Linked DNA regions of Homo sapiens: all the other regions are linked to region 1. Evidence: fine-mapped expression QTL. A gene starts in region 1. Each other region holds a variant in brackets. All regions are shown on one strand. Distances are between the middles of the regions. Region 1 holds the start of TRNT1 (tRNA nucleotidyl transferase 1). Region 2 overlaps CRBN (cereblon). Region 3 overlaps CNTN4 (contactin 4). Region 4 holds the start of CRBN (cereblon).

Region 1 (8,145 bases):
TTGGTTGCTAACCATATAGCTTCTCTTATTACGCTTATTTCTTCATATGTGATATATATTTTTATGTACTATATTTTTGCTGATAATATATAAAAATAGAATTGATTTATGTATATTAACCTGGTATCCTGAGACCTTCCTAAATTTACTTGTTAGTTCTAGTAGTAGTTTTGTCAGTTCCTATGATTTCTGTATAAACCACCATCATGTCATCTGAAAATAGGGACAATTTTACTTCCTTTTGAATTGTTACACTTTCCATATCTTTTTCTTGCTTTGTTAATGGTTATAAACTACAGACAAATGTTAAGAAGTGGTAAGATGAGGCATCCTTGCCTTCTTCCTGATATAAGGGGGAGAGTGTTCAATATATTACCACTAAGTCTGATATTGGCTATGGATTTTTCATGAATGACCTTTACTATATTGAGGAAGTCCCTTCTAATTTTTTTGGCAGTTTTTATGAGTAGGGATTGAATTTTAAGTGGTCTTTCTGCATCTATTGTGATGACAACAGTTTTTCTTTTTCAGTTAATATGGTGAATTACGTTGATTGGTTTTAGATCATTAAATACAACTTGCATTCCTTGCACTGGGGACAAACCCAAATTGATCATGATGTATTATCTTTCTATATACTGTTGGATTCAATTTCCTAACATTTTATTAAAGTTGTTTTTGTTTCTATGGTCATGTGGTATATTAAGCTGTATATTAATTTTTTTGTAGTGTTGATTTTATGTTATGCGGGTTATGCTGGCCTCAAAATGAGAGGAAAACTGTTTCCTCCTCTATTTTCTAAACAAACTTTGCACAAGACTGGAGTTCTTCCTTCCTTATGCGTTTGATAAATTTGACCACTGAAACCATCTGGGCCTGGAATTATCTTTGTGAGAAGTCTGTTGAACAACAATTCAATTTCTTTAAAAATGAAAAGCTATTCAGATTTTTAAATTCTACCCTATTTCAGTTCTGATAAATTGTCTTTTTTATAGAATTGGTGCGTTGCATCTACATTGTCAAATTAATTGGCATAAAATTGTTTATAATACCTCCTCATATATATCTACATGATCTGTAGTAATACCCCTATTTTTGTTTTATTGTCTTGGCCAGTACAGGAGGAATTCTCTTACTCTCTCTCTTTCTCCTCTCTCTCTCTCTCTCTCTCTCTCCAGTTGACCTTCCATGGCCATGGGTTCTCCATCAGTGGATTCAACCAGCCACAGGTCAAAATATTAAATAAGGCTGGGGCACCATGGCGCACGTCTGTAATCCCAGCACTTCGGGAGGCCTAGGTGGGTGGGTCACCTGAGGTCAGCAGTTCAAGACCAGCCTGGCCAACATGGTGAAACCCCGTCTCTACTAAAAATACAAAAATTAGCCGGGCGTGGAGGCGGGTGCCTGTAATCCCAGCTACTTGGGAGGATGAGGCAGGAGAATCGCTTGAACCTGGAAAGCAGAGGTTGCAGTGAGCTGAGATCGTGCCACTGCACTCCAGCCTGGGCGCCAGAGTGAAACTCCATCTCAAAAAAAAAAAAAAAAATTAAATAGCAATTAAAAAACACAAAGAAGCGATATAGCATAACAACTGTTTACACAGCATTTATATCAGGTATTATAAGTAATCTAGAAATGATTTGTACTACAGAATGTGTATAGTCTATATGTAAATATTATGCCATTTTATGTAAAGAACTTGAACACTGGCTGGGGTGATGTTCTGGAACCAATACCCCATGGATACGGAAGGACAACTGTATATACACCTGCATATATAAACTATATATTTACAAGGCCAGAAATTGTTGAGGGTGCCCAGCACAGTAACTGGCACGAAGTAAGTCATCATAATAGTTGTATTAGCGTTGCCTTCATAGGTGGTGATTTGGAGAATCTATTCTAGGTGGGTACAGCAATGGAGGCTTTGGTCCAGTTTGTCTAGGGTCATGGTGGTGAGAAATAGCAGACAAGCCTGAAAGGATGATTTGGGGCTTTCCTTGCCCCAAAGAGAGAGAGAGACAGAAAATCCTTGCACCGGATGATATCAATGCTGTGCCTCTGAATGTCCATTTGGAAAGCCAGTCCTGTGCTTCCAAAAACAGGATATTCAACACCTTGAAGAGGTGTGGTAATTGCACATCTTACTTTTTACGTTTTAGGAAGTCTACAGAGAGTGGGGCTGAAAAGTTTGGGAAGAACAGGTAGGCATGTGGGGAGGGCAAAAGAACAGAAATAACATGCACAAGCATTTTTCTAGGAAAATTTTAGGGAAAGCTAAGTGATGTAAAGTTACACTTAAAAGACTACACATTTTCGGCCGGGCGCAGTGGCCGAATCCCGGCAAAAGTAATCCCGGCACTTTTGGGGGCCGAGGCCTGGGGAACACGAGGTCAGGAGTTCGAGACCAGTTGGCCAACACGGCAAAACCCCGTCTCTACTAAAAATTAGCCGGGCGTGGTGGCAGACACCTGTAATCCCAGCTACTCGGGAGGCCGAGGCAGGAGCATCGCTTGAAACCGGAAGGCGGAGGTTGCAGCGAGCCCAGATCGCGCCACCGCACTCCAGCCTGGGCGACAAGAGCGAAACTCCGTCTCAAAAACAAAACAAAACAAAAACTACACATTTTCGCACTTTAAGGGCTCAACGGCTGTATTCCCACTCCTTTGCCACTCTCTTTGCTCTTTTCCGCTCTAGAAAGAATTAATGAACTGGATCAAATCTAAGTTCTCCACGTTACAGATGGGAAGCCTCCGGGCCAAGGAGGCCAATGGTTACACAAACCAGGTAAGAAAATAAAATATGCCCAGTAAGTTCATAGGACCGGCGGGCTTAGATTTCGAATGCGCGTGACTCTGTCAACTGTGGACTTAACCCTATGCAGAGATTAGAGGAGAGAATAGTCAAACACGGATAAGTTAACATTTACCGAACAGTCCGTCCTACCCTGGGGTAGGTTTTATTAACAGTCTCGTTTTGCAAAGGAAGACAGCTGCCAGTTGTCTCAGATCGCACGGGCATGCCGCGCAGATGGGCTTCTGAGCAGCTCAGGGCCAGCCAGAGGTCTGGCGAGAAGGGCGTAATTAAACGAACCCGCGCCGGTTTCCTCAGGGCCCCCCGGGGCTCCGCTTCGCCCCAGCGGGCCTCGGCGGGGCTGGGAAACCGGCTGAGGTTCGCCTCACGGTGGGGAGGAGCGACGGGAGGCGGAAGCCCTTCGGTCCGGGCCCCGCCCCCGCACTCGCCCTCGCCCCGCCGCGACTTCCCATTCGCCGCCAACCCATGTGCGTTGGTGACGTCACCGCGTTCACCAGCCCGGAAGTGCGCGTGGCGGCGGTGGCGGCTGCGGCAACAGCGGGGCCGGTAAGCGGGCGCGCGCCGCTCAGAGGGGCAGAGTTGGTGGCGTGAGTTGCTGCCCCTTCCTTCCTGCTGTGGGCCAGAGGCGCCACCGCGCCCGGTCCTCGAGGAAGACGGGAGCGGGACGTGGCGAGAGGCCTCCTCAGCAGTGGGCAAAATAGCCCCGACGCGGAGGTCGTGTCCCCGCCACGTTTCCGGCGACCGCAGGCGCGGATTCCTTGGCTTCCCTCAGCACTTTCCCCTCCGCGCGGACGGCCCCGAGACGCTTTTTCACTGGGCCTTGTCGCCAGCACCCGGCGTGGGGGGTGAGACGCGCCTTTTCAGGGCTGGGGTTCCCCAGAGCGTTTTCCTAAGTCGAGGCGGAGGTGCGAGGAAACTGAGTGGGTCTTTCCGCCCCACGTGGCCTGCCGGGAAGCGCGGCTCCTCCACCCGCTTCCGTGGAATGGAATGGTTTTTCTCTGCAGGTTTACACCGGGGTCACTCGAGAGCTGCTGCGGCCTCCTTATGGGCAGGACCCCCGTATGGGGAGAACGAGGATGTGATATGTAGAAGGGAAGGCCGCGGTGTGCCAGAAATCAGAGGAGATTGCAAGATGGCAGGAAAAGAATCAGGAAAATGGGGGCAGCAAAACTAAATTCATGGGAAAATACAATGTCTAGGAGCTATCCCAGGGTCGTGAATCCTCGAGTGCAGGTGGGGAAGTAGGGTGATACCCACCTGTGACCATGACAAGTTTTGGAGACCAGAAACTCGGTTAGAGTTTCTAGAACCCCGCATCCCTCTCATACTGCCTGAAGCCCTGCTCTGGGGAGAGTGTCATCACAGTACCATGTGGCATGCGAGTGTCGTGGTAATGCTCCCCGACCAAACCACCAAACCGAGGGTTGGGCTGCTTATTCTCGCTGCCCAATAATGAGATGCAGATAAACTAGGAAAGAAAGGAGTTTATTTCTGTAACCAGGTACGGGGCGAAGGCGTGGAAAATATCCCAGACCGACTCAGAATTACAGAGCTTTCCAGAGCTTATATACCTTGTAAGTTGTATGTTTATGTGTAAGTGTGCATTGATCTAAAGATACAAGTGATTAACTTCTTACCCATAAGATCTGAGTCCTGAAGACCTTCCTCTGGAGCCTGAGTAAATTTACTTAATCTAAATGGGTCCAGGTGCTGGGGTGATTACCCTTATATTCTCTCCTGCTAAATCATGGAGGTTTGGGGAGTTCCCTCAGACCCCTAATAAACTTGTTCGTGGAGGCCTGGGGAGTTTCCTCAGATCCCCAGTAAAACTTGTTTAATTCTAAACGGGTCCTGTTAAGAATTCCTTTGTGGCCGGGCTCAGTGGCTCACGCCTGTAATCCCAGCACTTTGGGAGGCTGAGGCGGGCAGATCACTTGAGGTCAGGAGTTCGAGAGCAGTCTGGCCAACGTGGTAAAACCCCGTCTCTACCCAGAAGTATAAAAAATTAGCCGGATGTGGTGGTGTGCGCCTGTAATCCCTGCTACTTGGGATGCTGAGGCAGGAGAATCTCTTGAACCCAGGAGGCAGGGGTTGCAGTGAGCTGAGATCGCGCCACTGCACTCCCGCCTGAGCGACAGAGCGAGACTCCATCTCAAAAAAAAAAAAAAAAAAAAAAAGAATTCCTTTGTTATTTTATCATGCTTCAAGGTCCAGGAAAGGCCTAGGCAAAACTCTTGGGGGGCTTTTGTTACATTCTAGCCTTGTTTAAGGGCACTGGCTGGCTCTTTCAGCTTTTAATATGTAACTCAACCAGTCAGTCAGTACTGAAACAGTTATGGAGGCCTGCGCTAGTGAGACCCCGCCTGCCACAGTAAGTGCTTCTGGAGAACAAAACCAGGTAGATACATAGACCTAGTCGTAATCCCTCAAACTGACACCGTTTTCAGTTTTTTCATCTGAACAAGAGATGAATTTCTGAGTTGATAAACTTGAAATGTGTCCCCCTTTGTTTTCCTTCACTTACCTTCACTTTTAATTTCATTGGTATGCCTGTGTATTTGCCTTGTAGATGTGTAGTTGGTGACTGCCTCTCCAGATGCTGAGGTGCCTGTATCATTGGCACAGGCCAGTGCTGAACCGTAGGTGGAGTAGGCTGTGCCTTCCGAAGCAGTATCTATTCACAATGAAGTTGCAGTCTCCCGAATTCCAGTCACTTTTCACAGAAGGACTGAAGAGTCTGACAGGTGAGAGATTAGGATACCTTTTCTTGATTGGAAACCTATATAAATGGAGAAGTAGAGGGTTAACTTTTTAAGCCAGCATTCGGATATTTTCATTGTTGTTTTAATTATTTTTATTAAAAAACGTAAGTAGAGGGTCTCTTTGTGTTGCCCAGGCTGGTCTCAAAACTCCTGGGCTCACTCCTTGGCCTCCCAAAATGCTGGGATTACAGGTGTGAGCCACGGTGCCCAATGTGCACGTTTTCATTGTTGGAAGAAAGGCTTGGCTGGGTGTACCCAGCCTGTAATCTCTTGGGGAGGCCAAGGTAGGAGGATTGTTTGAGCCCAGGAGTTTGAGGCTGCAGTGAGCTATGATCATGCCACTCTAGCCTGGGCAACAGAGTGAGACCCTGTCTCAAAAAAAGAGAAAGGAATATTAAAAGAGAAAGGCTTACATATGGCTGATCCAAAAATATAGCTAAATCACTGGAAAAGGCAAGAAGTTGACTGCAGTAAAAAGCATGGCTTTTCTGTATGCTGTGCTAAGTACTTGCCATTCATTACAGGACTGGTGCTACTAACTTAATGAGTACGCACATTTTGACCTGTTACGTGAAAAAGGAAACAGATTGTTAGGCATGTGAAGTGCTTTGCCTGTGTTTCTGTAACTACTAACTAGAGAGCTAGGTTTCGAACTTACGCAGATTGATTTCAGAGCCCAGCTTGCAACCGCTAAGCTCTGTTTCCTTCCTAGGTATAAATGCTTTCCATGAGAACTGAAGGAAGAAGGAAATAGGAGTTGCCTCCATTGTGCACGTTGCAAAACCTGTCTGGAAGGAGCATAGGAAATGGCTTTAGCTAAGTGCCAGTAGCTTCTTGCTGTTGCCACAGTTTCATTAGTGTTGATTCTCAATGTTGTCTGCTGATGTTGCTAAAGCAGCCACACAGTAGCATTACAAAGCCTGTGGGAATTTTAATAGCACCTTCATAAATATATTTAGTAGTATATGTAGAAATATGACCTATACAGCACTGGCTATCTATTAGATTCACCTGGGGAGCTTTTAAAGCACACATGCTCGGGTTCTACCTGCAGCCTACTGAATTAGAATCTCTGGGTGGGATGACCATCTATATTTTTAATAAAAGCTCCACAAGTTAATTCTGATGCACAGAAGATAGACGAACCATTACTTTAACATGACTCACCTTGTATTAGCTTATTCTCAAAGCTACTTTCCCATTCTTGAAATTGGATGATGGCTTTTTAGGTACGTGCCAGAGATAAATGGCCCAGAATATGTTGATTCTTTTAGATTGTTTTAGGCAGACTTTAAGTAGAGGGCTTAAATGCATGTTTGGTTTTGCCGATGCTTCACTATCTTTTTTAATTGGAGAGAGTGAAAATTGCTAAAAATTGCTGTCCAATAGAAATTTATGAGCCCATATGTAATATAAACTTTTTTACTAACCACATTAAAAAGATAGAAATGGTGAAATAAATTTTAATAATTATTTTTGGTTCATCTAATTTAATCCAATATATCTAAGATACTATCAGTATGAATTTTGTATAAAAATTGTTAATGAGGCCGGGCACAGTGTCTCCCACCTGTAATCCTAGCACTTTGGGAGGCTGGACATGGTGGCTCATACCTGTAATCCCAGCACTTTTGAGTGGCTGAGGTGGGTGGATCACTTGAGCCCAGGAGTTTGAGACCAGCCTGGGCAACACGGTGAAACCCCATCTCTACTAAAAATATGAAAAATAGGCAAGCATACTGATATGTGTCTGTAGTCCCTGCTACTTGGGAGGCTGAGGTGGGAGGATCACTGAAGCCTGGGAGGGGGGCTTGCGGTAAGCCGAGATTGTGCCACTACACTCCAGCCTGGGCGACACAGACCGTGTCTTTAAAAAAAAAAAAAAATTAATGAGATATTTTATATTCTTACTTGGAAGTCTTTGAAGTCTGGCATGCATTTAATACAGCACATCTGAATTCAGACTTACCACATTTTAAGTGCTCAGTAAGTACAAGTGGCTGCTGTTTGAATAGTGCAGATTTTGAAGCTGTGATTTTGGGTTGAGTTGAAGCTTTTTTCTTTCTGTGTATGCCCTTCACAGCCCCCAATTTTTCAACTTCAATTGCAAGAGGCCTCTTGGAAGAAGGAGTAGTAATTAACTCTTGATGGCCTAACTCAGGTCATTCTGCATTTTTTGGAAATAAGGTTCTAAATATTGATTACTATAGTTTCTTGAACATCATTTTAACAATTGTGTTTAACGTTCTAAACCTGAAACTGGCTAGCCATATGTAGAAAGCTGAAACTGGATCCCTTCCTTACACCTTATACAAAAATCAATTCAAGATGGATTAAAGATTTAAACGTTAGACCTAAAACCATAAAAACCCTAGAAGAAAACCTAGGCATTACCATTCAGGACATAGGCGTGGGCGAGGACTTCATGTCCAAAACACCAAAAGCAATGGCAACAAAAGCCAGAATTGACAAATGGGATCTAATTAAACTAAAGAGCTTCTGCACAGCAAAAGAAACTACCATCAGAGTGAACAGGCAACCCACAACATGGGAGAAAATTTTCGCAACC
Region 2 (8,000 bases), 34 kb after region 1:
TGCTCTGCAAGTGATCAAAGAACAAGGTATAGCAGAATATAAAGAATTATCACATTTTTCTCAAAACAAAACCTACATACGTACAAATCTTTGTAATTTCACTGTAAATAAAATGTTAATTGACATGTGACATGACACATGAAAGTGAGAGAGAAAAGGAATAAGGTAGATCAAAAGGCACTTTTAACAGACCAGAACAAGAAAAACAAGGTAACATTTAACAAAACAAGAGGAAGACCCTACTCCTGCACCTGCAATATCAAATGACTAGGTATGTTTCATACGCTGAATGATACTTACCCTAGGTATGTTTCATACCTAGTCATATGATCTTGCAAGTGCCGGAGTAAGATCTGCAGGAAACGTGGGAACACAGCACACATAAAAGGGACTCGGGACTGAGCTGACAGCTGGAATTGTACTACGCAACTGTACAATGTGCTACACCACTCACACCCTCGACTTCCCCGCCACTCCAATCCTATTCTAGCTATGTTAGTTTGGTGCAAAAGTAACTGCGGTTTTAACAGAAGACTAGAATCTATGAGACAATGTTATTCTATTCCATGCTGTTCAAATATGGGAACTTTTATTATCAAAGGGAATGTCTTGTTACCAGAGATGTTCAGTTTAGAGCTGTCTCTCAAGTGGACACACTGGTTTTCAAATATTTTAGGAGTTGCAATATGGAAGAGGACAGACTTGTTCTAAAACACGACCTACAGCTCAAAACAAAGGATTCCTTAATGAGAAACATTTCTGGCTTAATATAATCCTTATATTTGAGACTATGCAAAGATCAGCCGTCCCCAACCTTTTCGACACCAGGGACCAGTCTCGTGGAAAACAGTTTTTCCAAAGATGGGGTGGAGGATGGTTTTGGAATGATTCAAGTGCATTACATTTATCATTAGATTCTCATAAGGAGCACGCAGTCTAGATCCCTCCCATGCGCAGTTCACAATAGGGTTTGCGCTCCTATAAGAATCTATGCTGCCACTGATCTGATAAGAGGTGGCGCTCAGCTTCACTTGCTCGTTCACCACTCACCACCGGCTGTGCGTCCCGGTTCCTAACAGGCCACAGACCAGTGCTGGTTCGTGGGCCAGGATTTGGGGACCCCTGCCAAAGGTGATCTGAGATGGCCTCCTACTGTGTGCTCTGGTAGTGGTTAAAGCCTGAGGAGTCAGACCATGAGACCCTTCAGGTACTCTCCAATAAGTTGTCCCTCACTTTTAAGACTAAATACCTAATGGTAAGATTATTGTCACAGTCCAGTTACAGAATTTAAGAAAATACTACCAAGAGCACATCAAGTAGCTCTGAATCTTCAGGAACAGCAATGGCAACCATTAGTATTGTGCCAAGAATTTCACATTTCTTGTAAGAATACTCTAAGGTTAGTAGTTTATTATCTCCATTCTAAAGTAAGGAAACAGAGGCACACAAGGATGGTATAACTTGCTCAAGGTCACAGAGTCAGTAAATAGGAAGGAGCTAGGATCTGTATACAGGGAGTCTGACTCTAACCATCATTCATTCAACAAATATTGTGAGTGCCTGATAGGGTTTGGCCGTGTCCCCACCCAAATCTCATCTTGAATTGTAGTTCCCATAATCCCCATGTGTCGTGGGAGGGATCTGGTGGGAGGTAACTGAATCATGGGGACAGTTACTGCCATGGTTTTCTCATGATAGTGAGTTCTCACGAGATCTGATGGTTTTATTAAGACGGTTTTGACCCTTTTGCTTGGCACTTCTTCCTGCCATCATGTGAAGAAGAACATGTTTGCTTCCCCTTCTGCCATGATGGTAAGTTTCCTAAGGCTTCCCTAGCCATGCTGAACTGTGAGTCAAATAAAACTCTTTTCTTTATAAATTACCCAGTCTTGGGTACGTCTTAGCAGCGTGAGACCAGACTAATACAGTGCCTAACATGTGTCAGGCTATTTTTATACATTTAGGCTATGCCAGTGAATGAAAGAAAAACCAACAAAATTCAATACCCTGTCGAGCTTATATTTTAGAGAGAAGAAGCTATATATTCTTAGAATTACAAAATGACAAAGACCCAACTGAAAGTTTTAGTTTCGCTGACACACTCCTCATTCAGTTATTAAAATATACTTCACATATCAGAATGGTCACTTTTGTAATACAAAAGAAATGTAAAAAAGTGTAGTACAAAAGTGTAATTTCATTTGGCACCCATGTCAAGAAAAAGAATCTGAAATAATATGTAAATTTCAAGTATAAAGAGAATAAAATGTGGCACACTAGCATATTAAGAGCAATGCACTGGATCAGGCATTCACTCTGCCACCATGCCCATGAGCAAGCTACAGTTTCAGGTAGCTTCTTTTCAGAGTCAGAAGACCTCTAAAATTCTTTATCTGGAGCATCCTGACAGATTCAAATATGCATAATACATCCTTAATATTTGTGATGTGTGTTAGTCAATTAGACACACTGAAGAGACATATACCAGAACAGATTAGCTAGCTAGCTTTTACAGAGCAACTGCCAAAGTTTAAGACATTTCAACATCCTCAAATTTAAGAGTCCCATTTAGCTTTCTGGCACAATAGGAAAGGCTCCTGTCTTATATCTGGGTAAAATGGATGATAAGTTCTAGCAATTTATAGGCATTCTTTAAATATATCAACACCATGATTGATGTCATAAAATGGTTATACCTCAAGAAAATTTTAATACTAGCCAAAAAGTTTAGGCACTTAAAAGTGACCAATGACGGATTCTCCAGCAGAGTAGTATTCACTCTGGGAACAGGATTTACTACTGAAAGCAGGCATAAAAGCCCTTAAAACGAATCTGTTACCTGGAGGTAATCTATCACAGTCCTCCATTCTTAAGCCTCATAACTATGGCTTCGGCTTTGCCTCCCAACAACGTAGAATGTTCAAAACATGTGAAACTCCATTTAAGTGAGTCTTTGAAGTGCAATGAAAATGGAAAGAGTAATGTGAAAAGCTAAACATAAATAGTAAATCACTACCACTGACTTCCTTTATATAGTGACTAAAAGTGGTCACTTATTGTGTTAAATCCTATTACAATCAGCAATGTAAATGACAGAAATAATTTATATAAATAATTAAAAAGTTACCAGTTTTTGTTTCCTTCTTTCATGAACCAAATTCCTACATGGTAATAAGAACTGGGATGGAATGATAAGCTCTTTCCTACTCCTGAGGCTTATACGCTAATGGCAGATACACAAGTGTACATACAAGATGTATGCCTGGGAAATGACCAGTCTTTCTGAGGAAGCACCTGACTATACATAGCCTAAGATTTCAAGACTTTTCTTCTTTATATAAAAATAGTCAATAAATGTTACTGTTCTTACGATTATTATCCTGGAACAAGGTGAAACAGATTCTCAAGTTCACAAGGAAATGTTAATCAATGGTAGTCACTGAAAAGCTTGACAAAAAAGCAGTGAGGGGCTTACCAGCCCTATTTTTATTTACACAAAGTATAAAGTGCCAACATTAACAACAATATGATGATGGCACACAAGCAGACCAAAAGAGAAGAAAAGTAAAATAAACATATGAATTTGGTCTGTGACAATGGTGGCATCTCAAATCAATGGGAGAAAATATGGACTATTCAAAAAGTGGTAGTAGGACAATAGGGAGCCATCTGGAAAAAAGTAAAGTGGAATTTATATCAGGATCAACTGCACAAGGATCAGAGCTTTCCACGGAAAAGTAATGAAACCACAGCAAGTATCCAAAGAAAACATGAGACATTCCTTTGCATGGGAACGTCATTTTTGGCTATGATTTAGAATACAGAAGCATTAAAAATTAAACTATGTAAGAACAACAACAAAAAAACAGTTCTGTTTGACACACCACACCAAAAACAAAAGACAAAAGACAAACTAGGAAAAATGTTTGGAACTCATTAATTACAGAGACTATAAAGCTTACAAGGAACTCCCAAGAAATCAACAAGCCGTAGAAAAATGGGCAAACACTTTACAGAAAGGAAACACAAACTGCTCTTACAACAAAATGCTTACCCTTGCTCTCAGAGAAATTCAAATTGAACCTTCAATGTAATATATTTCACTTATCAGATCAGCAAACATCAGGTTTGATACTACATTGCCTGTCAGGCCATGATGAAACAATAAAAATAAGTACAAACACCTTAAGTATTTTGAAAATAACT[C/T]GCCTCCCGGGTTCCAGTGATTCTCCTGCCTCAGCGTCCCAAGTAGCTGGGATTACAGGCACCCGCCACCATGCCCGGCTAATTTTTGTATATTTAGTAGAGACGGGGTTTCACCATTTTGGCCAGGCTGGTCTTGAACTCCTCACCTTGTGATCCACCCGCCTCAGCCTCCCAAAGTGCTGGGATTACAGGCGTGAGCCACTGTGCCTGGCCTCAAAATTATTTTTAAAACTGACAGAATTATAAATGCATTTACCCTGTGAGCCAATAACCTCACTCTTTAAAAGTTATCATAAATATTTACCTATATAAAAGGTCATTTGTACATGTTATTTAGTACAGATCTATCATCAGTATGGGACTGGTTATACAGTGTATCCATACAAAAGAATTCCAAGCAGCTTTAAGAATGAGCAATGCTCTATAAACTAATACAAAAGAATCTCCTATAAGATACACCGTTAAGAAAAAGGTACGTATCCTTCTGTATAAGAAAGAAATAAGAACATTTGTATCTAGATAAAATTAGGAGGAGATTTAAACACTAATCTGGGAGATTACGTATGAGACCCCTGCCCTTCCAAATTCATGCTCAGTTCCTCCCTGCTCTACGCAATAAACAGGAACAACCATGGCTAAGTTCAACAGAGGCCAGAAAGATGAGACTCATTACTTTCTTAGTATCTGTTTCCCATTTGACTTATCTTTACATTTCATACTCAACTCTTTTCTGATTAACATAGTAAGCCTTGATATATGAATAAGCAGATGGTCTGGGCAAGCAGGGAATATACTTAGAAACATTTAAGTCATACTCCAAACAGGTTTAAACAAAATTTCCTCTTTTTTTTTGAGGAGGATTTTTACTGTAGGGGGATTCTCAAATCCCCCTACAGTAAACCAGTGAATAGAGAAAGGCACTGTGATGGGAGAAGAAGTAAACAGTTTCAGAGCTCAAATTCCAGAACAAGAAATGTCTCTAGATGGAGTGGGTTTTGAAAGTGTTTCCTAATTACACTGGCCTAACTCCTTAATCATGAGAGACACGTGCTGAATCTTCTCTAATGCTTCCTTGTCAGAATGGTAGATAACACAGAACACTTCCAGAAGCTTAAATAATTTTATTTCATGTCATTTGAGTTGTTTAGGTTTCCACGGCAAATGCTGTGTGCAGTTTCAAAGTTAATTGAATATATCTCAGGAAGACTACAATCCTCGATACTTTAAGTTCCTTTTCTGCAGGAAAAGTGCGCGGCAACCTTATTAGCTTGAGTTAGCTTAGTTATGTAAGCATCTCCCAACTCTGACCATTTTAACTACTACTCAGACACAGAGACAGAAGACACATATGCAGTACTTCAGATTATGGTGGGATGGACAAATCAGATACAAGCAAGCTCTATGAAGACAGGAATGAACTGAACCTTGTATCTGTCTAAAGACAAACACTGTTACATAATCCAGCCCTCATGGTAAGCTAGCGTCCCACTAAAGGTGCAGCATGCCAAACCACTCAGATGGTCCCACTGCATACGGAGTTCCTACCAAAGATATCTGCCATCCCCTTTCCCTGTTGGATTCCTTTTTGATGCACACAGAATGGCTCTAAGTGGTCTCTCTAAAGCAGAACAGAGTTTGTAGGTCACTTGGAGTCCAAAATAGATCAGCTAGCGGTTTCTCTTGGCCTAGTGATCTAGATTCCAAATTTCAGAACCTAAGAAACTCTATCAATGTTTAAGCAAGGGAACCCTGTAGATAACCTGACGTATATGGGATGGAGTTATTTGTATCACCTAAAACCTTTTAGGCCTTCTCATTCCTTAGCATCGTCTCTTTAGCCCTTGGCAACTCTGAATATGAAAATAACCAAGGGCTAATTAAGACAAGAGGAAAAATTCAGAGGATCTGAACCCAGGCAAATATGTGCTTCTTTGGTCTTCCCAGCTCTATCTTTTCTTGTCTTATTAAGCCAGTGGCAACCCAGTTGCATGGGCCAAATTCGGAATGTAATGTAAACAAGATGCTTTAACCATAGAACAGGAAGAATTTAAGTAGTAACTCACATAAAAAATAAATTTAAAAAGCAGTCTTACTTGCTTAGCCCAAGTTCAGGTTTAAGACTGCAGGATCCTACAGGCAGGTCACAGAACTAGCTGTACAGAGCACTTGAGTCAGGAATTAACTACCACTGCTCTCACTCTATACTTAGAACTTTGCAAAGAAGCGTTAATTTAGGATTTTTAATGGTTAAGAATTTTTAAGCCATCTTGGTGCGGAAGAACTATTCTATATACCCAAATACTTAATACAGGCATACTGTGATTCACAGATACTGCCTTTAAAAACAAACAAACAAAAAAAAAATTAAAGATTTCTGGCAACCCTGTTTCAAGCAAGTCTATCAAGCCATTTTTCCAACAGCATGTGCTAACTACCTGCCTGTGCCATATTTTGGTAATTCTCACAATATTTCACACTTTTTCATTGTTATATCTGTTATGATGATTTGTGATTAGTGAACTTTGATGTTATTACTGTAACTGTTTTGGGGCACCACAAACTGCACCCATTTAAGACAGTAAACTTAACAAATGTGTTTTGATTGCTCCACTGACGAGCCCCTCCATCTCTCTCCCTCTCCTCAGGCTTCCCTATTTCTTTGAGACACAACAATATTGAAACTAGGCTAATTAATAACTTTACAATGGCTTCTAAGTGCTCAAGTGAAAAGAAGAGTAGTCAAGCATCTCTCACTTTAAATCAAAAGCTAAAAATGATAAAGCTTAGTTAGAAACACATGTCAAAGCTGAAAGAGGCCAAACGCTAGGCCTCCTGGGGCAAACAGCAAAGCTGTGAATATGAAATGCTACTCTGGTGAAAGCCAAAAAGTCTTATTACTGATATGGAGAAAGTTTTAATGGTCTGGACAGAAGATCAAACCAGCCACAAATTTCCGTTGAGCCAAAGCCTAATCCAGAGAAAGTCCCTAAGTCTCCTTTCAGGGGCTAATAGCTGGTGACTTTAAGTTAAAGCCAATGCTCACTGGCCATTCCAAAAATCCTAGGGCCCTTTAAGAATGCTAAATCTACTCTGCCTGTGCTCTGTAGTAAATGGAACAAAGTCCGGATGACAGAACATCTGTTTAGATAATGGTTTACTGAATATTTTAAGCCTGCTGTTGAGACCTACTGCTCAGAAAAGACTCTTTATAATTATTACTGCTCATTGACAATGTACATGGTCACCCAGAAGTTTTGATGGGAGACATACAAGGAGATTAATGCTGTTTTCATGCTTGGTAACAAAATTTCCATTCTGTGACCCATGGATCAAGGAGTAATTTAAACTTTCAAATCTTATTATTTAAGAAATACATTTTTCATAGGCTATAGCTGCCACAGATAGTGATTCCTCTGATGGATCTGGAAAAAGTAAATTGAAAACCTTCTGAAAAAGAGTCACCATTCTAGGTGCCATTAAGAATAATCATGATTCATGGGAGGTGGTGAAAATATCAACCTTAACAGGAATTTAGAAGAAGTTTACTCCAACCCTCATGGATGACGATTTTGAGGGTTTCAAGCCTTCAGTTAAGTAACTGCAGATGTGACAGAAACAAAAAGAGAACTAAAGTTAGAAGTGGAACCCACAGATAGGACTGAATTGCTGTGATCTCATGATCAAACATGGATTAGGAGTTGCTTCTTATGGATGAGCAAATAAAGTGGTTTCTTGAGAAGAAATCTACTGCTGAAGATGTTGTGAATGTTGAAATGACACAAAGAATTCAGAAT
Region 3 (8,145 bases), 400 kb before region 1:
CAAATGCATATTGAAGGCATTAGCACTGCTTTTGGTTAACGGTCTTTTCAAAAGGCCACCATTAAAGTGTATGAATTCCAGCTTGAATCTAACAGTCTCCAGAATGACTTAGATTGTAGTTATATATATTTTTTTACAACAAGAAACTGTCCTGTAGTGGGGAAGGGCCTGGACAACACACATGATGGAGTTTTCCATATGCATCCAGAAATACCAGAAGGGGTACAGTTCAAGGAAGCAGATTTTTAGGGAGTAGTTGATCCCGGTGGTGTTCAGGTTGAAGTACAGACACAAAAATGAACAGTAAGTCCACAGAGAGAAGGCTTTTGCCTGCCACATTGCTGAAGACCAGTCTTACTTGTATGTATTCACACACACACAAGTACATTTGGAGAAATGTCAAAAAGAAATAAGAATAGAACGAAGACCAATGACATGAAGAAATAACTCACTGAATAAATTGGTGTGTACCTTTCTATGCATATAGTGTTGATCAGGAGTTTCTTAGGTACAGCTGATAACAACTGCAACTCAGATTTGCTTAAATGAAGGCAATCATTAGCTCTCATATCTGAGAATCTTAGGGATAAAGCTTGCTTGGGACGGAACTTGTTCCAGAGCTGAAACGATGCCATCAGAACTCAGTCTGTCCCTATCCTTTAATTTTGCTCTTTTCTGTTTTGGCTTCATTCTCTTTTTAGGTTCTCTCTCTCTATGTGGGAGTCTTTGGAAGCTCCAGGCTTCCTTCTGTAAGCAATTCTAGACTACAAAAGGGTTTTTTCCTTGTAGTTTTATGAAAAGTCCTGCAATGGAGTCTCATTAGCCAGGCTTTGGTCACCCATGCATGGGAACCAATTTAACCAAGAAAATGGAATATTAATTGGTCAGGCCAATTGATAATGTATAAATAAGTATTAATAACTTATCAATGCTAAGCAGTGTCATCTGCTACTCCTGACCTGTGCAGAGGATTTTAGTCTATCCAAACCACTTGAGTTGAAAGAGTAGGAGGGTTGGTTCACCAAAGAAAGAGTAGAATGCTCTTACCTAATGAGGAGCAGTGGATACTGAGGCAAAAATCACAGATGTCTACTACATAGTTATGCCAGTAGGGAAGCACCATTGAGTGAATTAGTGACCCTGATATCTCATTTACATTTCTCTAGCTAAAGCCAATCAATTTTATACATGTATGTTTCTATGCTTTTATTCTCATGAGTAAACAGTAATGCACCTAAATATAAATCGGAAAGTTTGCTGCAGTGGAGCGCTGGGTTGTTAGGGTAGTACACTACTCTGTGTGATATTGTAATGGTGGATCCATGTCCTAATACATTTGCCAGGACCACAGCATGTGCAATACGTGATGGACCCTGATGTGAACTGTGGGCTTTAGTTAATATGCATGCATTCATATTGGCTTATCGATTGTAACAAATACAGCACAGGAATGCAAGATGTTAACAATACGGGAAACTGTGTGGAGAAGGAGTGTAGGCAAACTCTCTGTGCTCTGCTCCATTTTTCTGTAAACCTCAAACTGCTCTGAAAAAATAAAGTTCTATTAATTAAAAAGATGAAGTTAGCTATAACTATTATTAGTCCTCTCTAGAGTAAACATTCCATGAGGGCAGGACAATGTCTGCTTTGCACACGGTTATGTCGCCTCCATGTAATATTGGAATTGGAATCCAATCTAGTCCCAGAAACTCGGATCAGAAGCCATTTGGGTCAGAAATGTTTGAGAATTTAAAATGTTTGTAATTTTAGAAGAGAAATATAGCCCACAAAACATGCCCAGTGTTACATAATAGCATCCCCAGCTGAGTCTGGGTCAGCACTGCATAATCAAACGCATTTCTAATTCTGCAGCAAAGCATATGAATATTCACATTGAGTCTATAAATAGTCTCCCATCAGTTCCCATCAGTTCAGGTCAGTTTTTGCCTCCAAATGAGTTACAAAGTATTTGCATTTGTTGGAAATGCTTCTTTCTTGTCATAACTAGGGCTTGGCGTCAGTATCACCCAATTACTTATTTTTAAAAGAGTCATTAATCCATTGTTCCTGGAATGTGTCAAGGTTTAAGATCAGGGTCAGAGTAGGATACATTGATACAGCCCCACGGCTGTTCTTTTCCACGCCTAAAAATCCTCGAGCAATGCACAATTTTTCCCCAAGGAGAGACCCTTTTTAGCTCCCAGCACTTCCCCGTCCTACCACTGTTTCTAAGATCTGGCATTACAAACGATTAGGGCTTCATTATGTGTGGGACAAATGCATGATGGCGGCAGCATTATTTTGTTAACAAGAGAACAAAGAAATCGTCTGAGAAGAGTTCACTTCTCATTTGGATTTTTTTCACTTTGTGCCTTCAGACATACACCAGCTGTCGGTAGACTTCTCTGTTTCTTGCTGTTTAAAATGCTCATTTGAGGGGTTAAAAGAAGGAAGGCGGAAGCAATGACAAATGAAAGTAATGTTTATCCTTTAAGCAGGCATGTCTGTCTCCTCTAATATTTGCTTTGCCTCTGCTCTATTCAGCTGAACAACCAAATAGAATACTTATTCAATAGAAACGCTGTGTGTTGGCCAGTTTTTCAAGTAGGCACTTGGGTAAGGCCTTTGAACATGCCTTGCTGTCTGTCTTATAAATACTAACAACACTAAATTGTATTAGTAATGATAGTGTGACAGCTGTCCAATCATCATTTCTACAATCAGTGATTGAATTTTAAAGGAATTCTTGCACTCAGGAAAATCACTCTTACAGTATTTCATTTGTTTGTGAATTTCCTTAGGTTATTGCCCATACGTTTTATGAGTAATTTAGATCCACAGAGATGCTGCTGATCTTACAGTTTTTTAGCCAAAATGCATTTCCCTAATCATTAGGAAGCCTGGAGGAGAAGGTTCACAGCCAGCAGGACACAGTGTGCCCTACGTGTGCCCTTCTTGGAACATGCTGGTGGTGGAAAGAGTAATGGTTCTTCCCATTGGGTTCCCCCTTGGTGTGAGTGGTGAGGGAGAAAGTGAAATATGAGCAGGACACTGAGAGCACACCCAACAACCCAGCTTAGCAGAACTTCCCCTTCCTTTTCCCTGGTGACTTTGTTCTGCAATCTGATAAAGCAACACGTTCCCACTGATTACACACACGGAGCATTTACTCTCTTGATTGGTCAAGGGCTCTGCAGGATATAGGCAAAGCCACTCTGGTTTGCACCAGGTTACTTCTGTGCATGCATAACGCAAAAAGCTACCTACCCTCCAGATGTGACCCAGGTACAACTCATATCTAAACCCATGCAGTCTTCCCTGGCTGGTATTCTAAGCTTCTATTCAAGCCCTTGTGTTCCCCATTAGGTGTCCTAGAGTTTACTTCCCAAGTGAAAATTGTTGCTCTTGAAGTGTTTCTACCCAAGACCAGGTGTTTAATCAAATAGCCCATTTGATGTCATGGGAAGATTGACTGTATATCACAGTGCTGGGTTCTTGGCTGTTATGGCAGCACTTCATACCTGCCATTAGGATTAAGGGCTTAAACAAGTTTCAGGTGCAACACCTGGGAACACCACAGCAATGACAAGTAGACTTGAACCTGGAATTTGTAGTTTTCTAAGATGAAATCATAATATTGCATTTTTGTTCTTTCCCAACAGAGTCAGTTGAATTTGCAACAGATGGAAATACTTCCAGCAAAAGAAAAGGGTGCTGTTCTAAGGGTCATGCGGCGAAATGTGGCCTTCATCCCACGGAGTAGCCGCAGAGTGATCTAGCACATAGAACAGAACTCTGCAGGGTAGTTTTTCTTCACTGGGATCCTAACCTGTTTAGAAATGAAAGTGGCCGGGCGCGGTGGCTCACGCCTGTAATCCTAGCACTTTGGGAGGCCAAGGCGGGCGGATCACGAGGTCAGGAGATTGAGACCATCCCGGCTAACACAAAATTAACAAAAAATTAGCCGGGCGTGGTGGCAGGCGCCTGTATTTCCAGCTACTCGGGAGGCTAAGCAGGAGAATCGCTCAAACCTGGGAGGTGGAGGTTGCAGTGAGCCGAGATCGTGCCACTGCTCTCCAGCCTGGGCAACAGAGTGAGACTCCATCTCAAAAAAAAAAAAAAAAAAAAGAAGAGAAAAGAAAAATGAAAGTTGTCTGTGCTCAATTCATAACTAGTTTTAAAACTTTAGAATGCATAGGCCAGGAGCAGTGGCTCATGCCTGTAATCCCGGCACTTTGGGATGCGAAGGCAGGCGGATCACAAGGTCAGGAGTTCGAGACCGGCCTGACCAACATGCTGAAACCCCGTCTCTACTAAAAACAAAAAAAATTAGCCAGGTGTGTTGGCACGCGCCTGTAATACCAGCTACTAAGAAGGCTGAGGCAGGAGAATCGCTTGAACCTGGGAGGCGGAGGTTGCAGTGAGCAGAGATCAAGCCACTGTACTCCAGCCTGAGTGACAGAGGGAGACCCCATCTCAAAAAATAAAATAAAATAAACTTTAGAATGCATAAAGATCAAGAGATGCTTGCTCAAATGCTGTTTTCTGAGTCCTGATAATTAGAATCCAGTAGGTCTGGGAGGGACTCAAGAATCTACCTGTTAACAAGCACTCTTAGCTAAGGTCATAGAGGTTCAGTATCCCTTATCTAAAATGCTTGAGACTGGAGGTGTTTCAGACTTTGGTTTTTTGTGGGGGGTGGCAGTGGATTTTGGAATATTTGCATATATATAATGAGATATCCTCAGGATGACACCCAAGTCTAAACATGAAAATCATTAATGTTTCATATATACCTTATACCTATAGCCTGAAGGTGATTTATACAATGTTTTAAATAATTTTGTGCATGAAACAAAGTTTATACTTTGAATCATCTAGCACAGGTGTCACTATCTCATGTTGGCACTCAAAAAGTTTTGGATTTTGGAACATTTCAGATTTTGGATTTTTGGATGAGGGATG[C/T]TCACCTGTTTCAGCCGGGAGGTTTCTTGACACACTTTGAGAAATAATTATTTTAGGTATAGTTTGACTTACCTTTTTACTATGTTGCTTTCTATGAAATGTTTATTTTGAGATTAGATCTACTGCCTGACTTGGTCCAGCTCCTAGGATTGTTCACAGATGCCCTGTAAAAATAAAAATAAAAACCAAAAAACTACATTTAGCATCAGTGGAATTTTCCTAGCTCCACCCACCCTCTAGCTTCCTGCTTTATGCGTGTTATCTTTTTTTGACCTTTCCCTTGGAATCCAGATTTTGTTCTGTACTTGCTCCTGTGGGCTTGATATTTGGGCATCTGCCTCACTTCCTTGAGTTAACCATCACCTGAGATTCAGGCTTATTTTTCTCTGCTCAGCCTCAGCCCAGCCCCATCCATTCAGATTCTCTTGCCCAGCCTCGCTTCCAGCAGCCTGAGTAGTATCCTGCTTGCCTGGGAGGGAAGTTCAGGAAAATGTGGAAGTGGGCCAAATTAATTAAAAGAAAAAAAAATAGAGATCATTGATGTTCCAATACAGCAAATAAATTAAGTGACACCCGGCTGCGGAGAGGTGCTTTATTACTCTTTTTCTTAGAGGGTTTTTTTTTTTAAGTCAAAAAATATTTTGTTTCCATTACAGATGTGGTCATTTTTATTCTGTAACCTAGGAAAATAATATTAAATAATATTTTCTAATGGAAAATTCTATGATTCTGTGCATCTCTTTCAGTAATCCAAAAATTTCAGATTAGCCCAGAGACACTATGTTTTACTTCTGGGACCCTTGTTTCTGGTCATGAAATCTGTGCTTTTTTCTGATAATCCAAAGATTTCCCACTCCTTGTTGAAGCATGAAAGCAGATTTTTTCAGCCTAGTCTTCTCCCTTCCCTTTATGAAGATGGGTTTATCCATCCTAATTCAAGATAATTACCGTGGTATGGAACTTTGCAGAACACTGGTAGTCTGATAGAAGTTAGCCTAGTGACTGATTGGCAGGTACCTAGTTACCAAGGAGAAACAAACTCAGGAAATCATGAAATCATGATGTAACAGTATTGGTGCCTGCACTAGATCCTCCAAGCTGTGTGTCAGATCAATGGTCTGGAATCCACAAGACTGTAGGTGAGCTCTTGGCAATCTTACTGCTCACTCCCTCATTCCTCATTCCTCCTCTTAACATGATTTTTAGGAATTCCTAGAAGGGTGGAAAATCATTGCCTTCCCCTCCTCTAATAATGTGAGCCCATGCCCCTAATTTCTCCAAGGCAGATGATGCCCTGGGGCGACTCTCACCCTTTTGGGGACCCAAGTGTAAAAACATTAATCCCAACATCCTGTCACTCAAATAAGAAGACATTCATTACTTATAAATAAATGGTAGTGGTTACAGTATAAATGCTATGTATACAAATGAAGACAAACTATAACTATAGGTCAGTGGACTATTGTGATCTCTAAGGATGCCTGCTCTTTGTCAATTCAGTGCAGTGCTTGTTGGGGAGGGTGGTGTCTCACAATTAGCTTCTGGAGTTCAACTACAAGTGTTCTAAGAAAGAGTTAGTTTATGTCAGTCCTAGGCCTTGACACATTCATGTGAGTCAGTTTTATAACTTTCTGTTCCTGGATGCTTCCCTCTCAACTATTAGTCCAGGCAGGCATGTGCTAAAATTACCTCTCTAAATCTTATCAAGCAAAGATTTGTTGGTTAGACTTTGCCCCCAAAAAAATGTGTCTAGGAGTGGGTCTAAAACCGGTGTTGGCCGATGTTCTGTTCTTAGGAAATGGAGAGCCAGGAATAGAAGGATCTGTGTTAGTAGTTCTCAAACTTCAGTGTGCAGAAGAATCACCCAGAGAGCTAGGTTAAAGGGCAGATTAATGCACCCCAGATTCTTCTGGCGTAGTCAGTCTGGACTGAGGTTTGATAAAACAAGCATGGCATGATAATAATGCAGGTGGTCTACAGTCTAACTCGGAGACGCATTGTATTATTAAATCTTGTCCTCTGTCATTTGCTGCGATGCTCTTTACCTCTTTAGACTGAAAATCACAGCCACTCTTCTGGTTACATAGAACAACTTACTGTGATAAAAAAAAAAAAAAGATGAACTTTATCTTCTAGGCTTTGAAAACGGTAAATGCAGTCTTTTGTATGTGCCTTCAAGACACTTGAAAGTCACTTTGTGGCTGCCACACAGAGATAGAACAAACTTAGGGATGCCTCTCCCCCTGTTTCATCTCAGAACGCCTCTCTCAGGACTCTTTGTCTCACCCAGGCACCTCAAGGTTTTGGTGAAATAAAGCAGCTCTTTTTTCTCAAAAACATTGTTAACCCTGGTCCGAAGGTTTAAAAGCTAGGATATCTGGGTTTTTTTTAATACCTTGATAGCTAAACTTTCTAAAATTTCTCCCTTCATCTTTGTGAGCCCAAATAGCTCGTGCACAAAAGCCTGTGGATTTCCTTCGATGAGAACTGAAATACTATTCCCTTTATGCTAATGTTAATTTTCAGGCAGTGAGCTTGGTTAACTATGAGAAAATAAAAACTTTAGATGGAATGCATTATTTATAGTGAATGCAAAGCATCATTATTATCAATTCTTGTTACAAAATACACAGAAAAAATATCTTTTTGTTATTTAAATATTGCATGGCTACATTGAGAAACAGTACAGATGTTAATCCACAGTCTCTCAGCTGCATCCTGAGTAATCATTATTACGTTTTATTCTTATGTGGAATAACTAGTAATAGACTCTATATTTCTGTATGAAATTCAAATCAGGGAACACCAATGAATTGAGATGATTGATATTATATATACACACACATAATTTTGGAATTGGGGACAACAATGGAAATATTTCTCTCTTAGAGAAAATCCACCAAACTTGTTGCTTTATTAGTGATCTTGACGAATAACATGTTTCATTTACCTAGATGTGCCAAAAATCACTTAATTCTTTACCATTGAAGTGAGCTCACATTTGACCAGTACTTAAATATGTTTTGAAAATATCTGTGTAATTGTTAAAAATCTGAAATTGAAATGTAAATATCTGGATTTTGAAATATCCAACTTTAAACACAAATTTTTTTTTTAAAGTGCATGTTTGTGTTTTTTTTTTTTTTTTTTTGAGACAGAGTCTCACAGCATCGCCTGGGC
Region 4 (8,141 bases), 52 kb after region 1:
ATGTAATTCCTTCTTCAAAAGAGGGGTACTTCTAAAACCACATGCATTTGGTAAACTCTACAGCACCGTGAAGAGGGAGCCAGAGGACTGGGGTCCGTGCTGGGCTCTGTCAGTAGCTATTTTTTTTTTTTAAGTCAACTGTGAATTTTAGAATAGTTTAACATTTACAGAGAAGTGTAAAGATAGTACAGAATGCTCCCGTGTGTCACACATCCTTTTCCCCTATAGTTAATTTATATTAGTATGGTACATTTGCCACAACGAAGGAATCAGTCTTGGTACATTACTCTAACTAAGCTTCATATTTTAAATGGATTCCCTTAGTTTTTATCTAGTCTTTTTGCGTTCCAGGATCCCACTTTACATTTAGTTATCAGGTCCCCCTACCCTCCTCTGGGCTAGGGGGGTTTTCAGACTTTGCTTGTTTCTGAGTTTTGAGGAGTACTGGTCAGGCCTTTTGTAGAGTATCCCTCAACTGGGTTTTGTTTGATGTAATTCCCATGATTAGACTGAGGATACGTGTTTTAGGGAGGAAGACCACAGAAGTGAAGTGTTGTTATTCTTTTCCTTTTTAGAAATGGGGTCTGTTGCCAATGTGCTGTTTTTATTACATATCCAGCCTATATATTATGAACTATTCCTGCTGTTAACCTTGATCACCTGGCTACAGCAGTGTGTGTCAGGTTTTTCCGCTGTAAAGTTCCTTTCCCCCCTCCTTTTCACATTGTACCCTTCGGAAGCAAATCACTAGGTGTAGCCTCCACTTCAGGGGTGATGAGTTATGCTCCACTCCCTTGAAGAGGAAATGTAAGTTATTTAAAATTCTTCTATATGGGAGATTTTTCTCTTCTCCCTCACCAGTAACTAATTTTAACACCTTAGACAACTCATTCTGCCCAATTAAATTTTAGTTTCCTCATCTGCAAAATGATAGGCTTCAACAAGTCAACCTCTAACGTTCTCTCAAACTCTCAACTTCAATCAGTTCCTACATAAGTAAGAAAAGAAACAAAGCAGGCAAGATCTGTTAATTAAAACTGAGAGAAAGATAACCTAGCAGGAAGAATTTCACAGCATTTTTCTAGTGACAACATTTCCCTGGCAGTCGCTACATTATCTTAAAATGAAGGCCAGGTGTGGTGGCTCACACCTGTAATCCCAGCACTTTGGGAGGACGAGGCAGGCAGATCACTTGAGGTCAGGAGTTCAAGACCAGCCTGGCCAACATGTTGCAACCCCATCTCTACTAAAAACACAAAAGTTAGCCGGGTGTGGTTGTAGGTGCCTGTAATCCCAGCTACTGGGGAGGCTGAGGCAGGAGAATCGCTTGAACCCAGGAGGTGGAGGTTGCAGTGAGCTGAGATTGTGCTATTGCACTCCAGCCTGGGCGACAGAGCAAGACTCCATCTCAAAAGAAAGAAACAAAGAAAATTTTGCAATCATTTGCATACTATTTTGCTTAATTTTAAATTTAAAAATAAAGTTTGCATGAAGCATAAAACATTTTAAAAGAATGTCTTAGAAAACCAGATGTTACCAATGACAGCAAAGAAAATTAGAAAACGCTACACAATACATATGCTATTGTACTAACTGTGAGTCTGTCCTTTTCATACAAACTATGAGTAAATTTCCTATCCTAGACCAGTGACTCTCAACCACAGGTGATTTTGCCCCTCAGGGGATATTGGTTGCAATAACTAAGGGAGTCCTACTGGCATCTAGTGGGTAGAGGCCAGGGATGCAGCTAAATATCCTACAATGCACGAGACAATCCCACCCAAAGAATTCTCCAGCCCAAAAGTCCAGTGCTGAGGTTGGGAGACCCTGGCCTAGACTAACAATAAAGAATTACTGAATCTCATTTCTCACCTCCCAGTTCATGTATTTTTAAATGCCCCAAATAAACTTCTAAATCGATAAAATGTCATTACGAAATAATCATTTGTTTTCCTTTGCATATCATTATTTAAGTCAAACCACCTCTAGCCAGGCCCCTGACAGAAAATAAAAATGATTTTCAATATGGTAACTGCCTTGGACTTTCTATTTATTATTACAACTTCCTAGATATAAAACTTTGTCAAAAACAGAATTACTTCAACTTATATGTAAATAGCCAATGGTCTAACACTTCATACAAATTTTCCTTGGAACATGTAAGTTTCACTGAGATAAAAAAAGAGCTATCTAAATGGATGACAAAAATATTCTGCATCAAATTGTTTGTATTTCCAACTCTGACAGTATGGCTATCACTTGGCATGCAGCACAACCCACTTTATTGCTCTACTACAGAAAGTTTAAAAGATAAACTATTAGCTCAAAGGCTGGAATTAATATTGTTAAAAATTTACATTTTAACTGTTCTGACTCCTAGTCTCTAAATAATTTCTTTAGTAACCTTTTTTTCATAAATATGGCTAAAAACCACTTTCCCCTACTCAGTTATGTTTATTAATGTTTCATTTGCCTAGGATAAACTCTTCACATCTCAAATATAAAGCTTTTTGTTGGAACTTAGAGGATTTACTCTTCAGAACAACTCGTACTACATGGAATTATGGAAAGCCCAGTGTTTCCCTACAAATAAAATTTACGTAATTTGGAGAGGCATTATTGCTATATCTACACCATCTCTGGGCCCTCTCCCGACGCTTTTCTGAAAAACAAAAAACAAAACAAAACAAACAAAAAAAAAACAAACAAAAAACCACGCTGACTGTTCAGAGCTATCAGTGAAGTCTGATGACTCATCTCATGCAGAGGCACGATGTGAATGTCGACAGAAGATCAGTATCCTCCCTCTTCTATTCACCATTCTCCCTGAAACACCGGATTTGGCACAGAGAGTAGGGCTAATGTCTCTGAAAAAATAGCTCAGCTTTCCATCAAAGGCTGGCACACTTACCCTTGTGTCAACTCAGCTAGAATGGCTTCGAGAACAACCAGTGACTATGGTTTATTTTTACAGAAAAGTTCTCTCCTATATGGTGGGCACGCACTCAGTCTCTTCCTCTTTTAATCCATGCTGCTACCAGTGGACAAATTAATCTTCCAAGCATAGATTTCTTTAGGCAATTACCTGAAACCTAAAACTGTTTCTTGGCAATCCACAGGAAAAACCCAAACCCACTGGCAAGAGATGCCAGTTTCCCAGCAACTTAGACCCAATATACCTCCTAGGCCTTATGTCCCACAACCATATCCTAAATATGTGCTTTTAGATGTCTCCTGATCTACCTGAAAGGCTTTTTCCCAAATCCTCTGACCCTTAAACAACCTCTGCCTCTGAAGAGCCACAACAGCATTCATTTATCTGGCCCTAAATCAACCGCCTCTGCAGTTGATTTACGTTTAGTTATATTCTCAGCAGCCCCGCCTAGACAGTAAACCTCAATTATCAGATTGTGTATTACCTCTCGTTTCATCTCCACAACACCTAACATACTTGTCATATAACGAAGGGACTCAAGTAATACTTTCAAGTTTGGATGATACACCTTTTGGAAAGCATCTCTTGAAAGGCATTCCATGAAAAGTTTATGCAATATTCCATGCATTTTTTTTTTTGTTCAGTATTTCAACACAAGGCCAAAGTCTAAACATTTCACACAACATACAGGAAAAAGAAAAACTAAGTATCTCTGATTAAGCATAATCGTACATGCCTGAGAAAGACCGATAGTAAGAAAAACAAAACAGAGAAGTGGTTTAGAGATATAATGACAGACACACCCGGGTTGGAATCCTGACTCTGCTGTGTGACCTTGGGCAAGTCATTGAACTAATCTGCAAATCCAATACTCGCTTATCAAATCGGAAACTGAAAACTGATGTGGGAAGGATTAAAAGGCGACATGCATGCAAAGCGTTAACTGCACGGCTCGTAACATGGTAAGTGCTTAGTACATGTTAGCTGTCACTCTTATTAAAAGGAAGGAGACCAGCAAAAGTAACCGCTGTGAATCTGACCCGGTCCTCTAGTTTCAGAGCATTTCCTAGGAGCTAAACTCAGAACACAAGGAGGATGGAGAGGATGGGTTTCCTGTTCTTAATAGCAAATGCTCCCCCCGACACCCTGGCTCACGGCTCGGGGCAACAGAGCAGCGAAGAAAGCGCCGCGACTCCATCGCTGGCCGAGGGCCGACGTGAAGCAGCTTTCCGGTGCGGCCCTGCTGGGCTGGCTCGCCAGGCTTGGCGCCCCCACGCCCGCCTCCCAGGCCCAGCTGCACCGCTAGCGGCTCCGAGCCTCGCCCCACTCCCGACTACAGGGAACTACTCCGGGCGGTTACCAGGCAGGAGCGGCAGGTGGTTGCCCATGTTGTGCGCAGCGTCCTGCTGATCTCCTTCGCCGGCCATGTCTGTTTACCCGCAAAGGAGGCTGGGACAGGGCGGTGCCGAAGACTCCGAGGGAGGGCCCGTGTCGCGCGGCTGCCGCGCACCGGGGCCACAGCGCCCCCTGGCGGCCCCAGGGGA[G/GCA]CAGACGGCGGCGCGTACCCAAGCCTGAAAGTGATGGCCTAGGCGGGAGGGACAATTACAGGCCTGCGCTCCGTCCCGGGGACAGAACGCCGTCCCCTGCCATCCACGGCTGAGTGCCCGGCGTACACGCTGCAGAGCCCTCACTTTGTTCCAGCCCTTAGCATGACTTATTTAATCCTGATATTTTGCATATGGAGAAACTGAGGCTGAGAGCCTTTAGTCTCCACCTTGTTTTTAAACGAAGGGGGCAGGGAGCAAATAGAAACCTGTTCATGCAGCATTAGTTTCAATTCTTAAAATAAGAAGCATATATGTGAAGGCTGGGGAAATCCATCAGTTATTCCGAGGGTGGTTGAATTATTGCTGATTTTCTTCAGTAGTTTCAATGTATGTACATACAACTTCAATAACTTCAGTAGTTTCCATATATGTACATTACATTCCAAAATTAACAAGTATTAATCAGAAACATACTTGAAATGATGATTGCACAGAATGGAAAACGCCTTATAATTGGTAAATAAAATTGTCTGAATATAAACTAGCCTACTCATTATGACTTCAGCTATGTAAAAACAAGTCACTGTGGCAAAAAAGAAAGACTATGTAAAAAATGAAGATAATTCTGTTATAATGGTGGAGTTGTGACTGGTAAGATATTTGTTTTGGAGGGAGGACAAAAGTTTTCGTAGTGTATTTCAGTATCACTTTTTCAGCGAGGAAGGAAAACTGAAAAATCCTTAAATGAAATACAACATCTAAACATGGTAGTGGTGGTGGTGGGCGGAGGCTGAGAGGAAGCAGCAGCATTGCTCAACAGAAAAGTCATGGATCTGAGATTTGAAAAAATGATTTCAGAAAATTTGCCTCCCTGATAAGTTACAAGCAGAAAACTCCCTTGTGACAGAGGCTTGTGAATCATTCCTGTGTCATTTTGCCTCCTGTCTCCGAATCAGTCTGTGGTCTTCGTCAAATCACTTATGGCTGCGGGCCTCAATTCGCCCATTTGCAAAATAAGAACGAACCAAATAGTGTCGCCTATTTGTTCCAGTTAATAATGTCTGCAACATGAATCATAGCATCACCTTTTACGATGAGGTTAATAACAATTACATATACTACGTAATGATTTAACGGAGTTAAGGTGATCACTCCAGTCAATTGAAGGATGATTCTATGCCAGAATGCCAGCACAGAACGATGAGGGAATGGCCGGTGTATTGGTGTGCGTGTGTGTGTGCCCACGTGAAAGAGAGAGAGAACGCAAGCAAGCAGGGAGCATGCACTAAGTAATATGTGTGTGTGTTTGATGCTGTAACATTATGTCTCACTACAGTTTGTAGAATTTCAATAACCTGTGCTTACGTGCAGTAGAATTTTCTTTACACAAGCATCTAGCTTCTGAATAAGTAAGCTCTGACTTTCCAGTCTTTCTCCCCAGAGGTGATACCAGAATTGTCTGAACCCTGGGTCAATCAAGACTTCTCCGGACGAGAAAGCACAGCTGCAAGGCTGGTGGAGTCTACAAATGTGGCTGGAGAAGCACTGGCTCTTTCTCTGTTCTTTTGTGCATTGCTACAGATCACCGGAGCTCACATCTGTGTATCTTTTACTCCCCAATTCTCCTCCTCTCCTCTCCACTCTTCACATTCACCACCTGCTCCCTCCTTCATTTTATCCCTCCGGAGTCTACCTAGTCATCCACAGCTACACCTTTCAGTAGGGATAACAGATGATCATTGAACAAAAATATCTAAGCAAGCAGGTTTCTTGGATTAAGCACTGGTTATTAAAACCAAAAGGAAAACATGGTCATTTACCATTTGTTTAATTTGGTAACTTTATCCTGAAAGAAGATATCATACTGAGTTGTTCCTAACATTTCCTCTTGCTTGCGTGCAGTATCAATGGATAAGGAGCTCTGCAAGCCAGAGGGAAAAGAAATATATATGTTCATAGATCACTGTCTTACAGCTCAAGAATTAACTTTAATAGTACAGAATTAAGGGTGGTAGAAGACGGGAGAAAATGTAAATGAAAAGGACCATCGCTCTTTCCATTTCTGGCTTCTACACAATATTAGCAGCAAGGAGCACATAGACTGGGAGAGGACATTTCTGTCTCCCTTTATATTGTATTTTCTCTCTCTCTGTCTCTCTTCATATATATATATATATATAAAATTTTTTTTTCTCGAGACAGGGTCTTGCTCTGTCCCAGGCTGCAGTGCAGTGGTGCAATCTTGGCTCACTGCAACTTCCACCTCCTGGGCTCAAGTGATCTTCCTACCTCAGCCTCCAGAGGAGCTGGGACCATAGGCACCAGCCACCACGGCCAGCTAATTTTTGTATTTTTTATAGAGATGGGGTTTTGTCATGTTTCCCAGGCTGATCTTGAACTCCTGAGCTTAAATAATCTGCCCACCTCCACCTCCCAAAGTGCTGGGGTTAAGGGATTAAGGATGAGCCACCATGCCCAGCCTCTACATATTTTTTTAATGTGTTAAAGAATGCTACTACTCTGGTCTAAGCGGTTGATTATCTCTTGCCTGGAGTATGGCAATAGCACCAACACTGGTTTCTCGGCTTCTACCCTTAGCTCTCACAGTGCTTTCTCAACAAAGCAGTCTGAGCGATCCTGTTAAAACACAAGTCAGATTATGTGACTCCCCTGCTCAGTACCCTTCCTTGGCTCCCCATCTCCCTTGCAGTGGCCCTTATAATGCACAGTGGGCCCCCAATATCCTGCCCTGATGTCACTTCACTGCTGCTCTGTGGGCTCTCCCTCCCCTCCATCAACACTGATCTTCTTCTTCCACAACCACATGGACCCATGGCCACCTCAGGGCCTTTGCAATTGCCTTTTCCTTTGGCTGGAGTGCTCTCCTCCTGCATAGATGCGTGACTTTTCCCCTTGTACCTTCCAGGTCTTGGGTCAAATACCCCTTCCTTGGGGAGTCCTTCCCACACTACCCAGTGTCAGATTGTGACCCTCTTCCCACACTTCCCACCATTTTCTACCCTTCTCTGCTTCATTTGCCTTCATCAAAGCATTTCTCAACTTTTAAAATACTATGAGGCCTGGATAACGTAATGAGACCCTGTCTCCAAAATAATAATAATAGAATAATAAAATACTGTGAGGCTTACTTTTAAAAACAGTCTCATTTCTCCCCCCTCAAAGGTATAAGGTCTGAATGGGGAATTTCTGCTCCCAAGAACAGGTTCTGGCATTTAAAAGCTGCTCAAAAAATGTTCATTAAATGAAAGATGAATTGCACAGTTCTGGCAGACACCGATTTCCTACCTACTCAACAGCAATTCCTCTTTCCTTCCTTGCCAAGAACTCTGATTTTGTTTGGGGCAATAGTGTACTCTGCTATGGGGTCGTGTTTGCTGTAAGCCTGTAATAACGAGCCCACTCTATTCCTCCAAGCTCCTCTATGGCTGATGGTATCACCTGATCTGGTCCTGGCTAATGACACCTAGAGAAAGTCAGCTTGGTAGCCTCTGAGAATGAAGAGGGAAGATAACTTTTAGAAGAGATTTTCCTCCATGATGAAAGGCAAAGATATCATTCCTCCCCACTTCCATCTGGGATGAAGATTAAGACCCATATTGGTTTGATGGATAAAACCAGCCAACCTAGTCCAAAGATCCAAA

What was found. PIP is the estimated chance that this variant, and not a neighbour inherited with it, causes the effect.
Region 2: its variant is fine-mapped to the expression of TRNT1 in whole blood (TOPMed, PIP above 0.99).
Region 3: its variant is fine-mapped to the expression of TRNT1 in cerebellar hemisphere (GTEx, PIP 0.96).
Region 4: its variant is fine-mapped to the expression of TRNT1 in whole blood (TOPMed, PIP 0.98).

Annotation. Positions count from the first base shown.
Region 1 is chr3:3,123,631-3,131,775 of GRCh38, forward strand. It overlaps TRNT1 (tRNA nucleotidyl transferase 1), which reads left to right and starts at 3,310. Exons shown (of 8, transcript NM_182916.3): 1 at 3,310-3,360; 2 at 5,384-5,558. The coding sequence starts at 5,411. It overlaps LOC124909339 (a long non-coding RNA gene), which reads right to left and starts at 3,201. Exons shown (of 2, transcript XR_007095786.1): 1 at 2,930-3,201. RefSeq lists a silencer at 3,014-3,433 and enhancers at 3,641-4,371, 3,794-3,873.
Region 2 is chr3:3,157,268-3,165,267 of GRCh38, forward strand. All of the region lies in intron 5 of CRBN (cereblon), which reads right to left. Among named protein-coding and RNA genes, the nearest start is that of CRBN, 18 kb to the right of the region's middle. The variant C/T (reference allele first, on the strand shown) is at 4,207.
Region 3 is chr3:2,725,436-2,733,580 of GRCh38, forward strand. All of the region lies in intron 4 of CNTN4 (contactin 4), which reads left to right. Among named protein-coding and RNA genes, the nearest start is that of CNTN4-AS1, 330 kb to the right of the region's middle. The variant C/T (reference allele first, on the strand shown) is at 4,966.
Region 4 is chr3:3,175,326-3,183,466 of GRCh38, forward strand. It overlaps CRBN (cereblon), which reads right to left and starts at 4,366. Exons shown (of 11, transcript NM_016302.4): 1 at 4,296-4,366. The coding sequence starts at 4,362. RefSeq lists a silencer at 4,430-4,599. The variant G/GCA (reference allele first, on the strand shown) is at 4,480.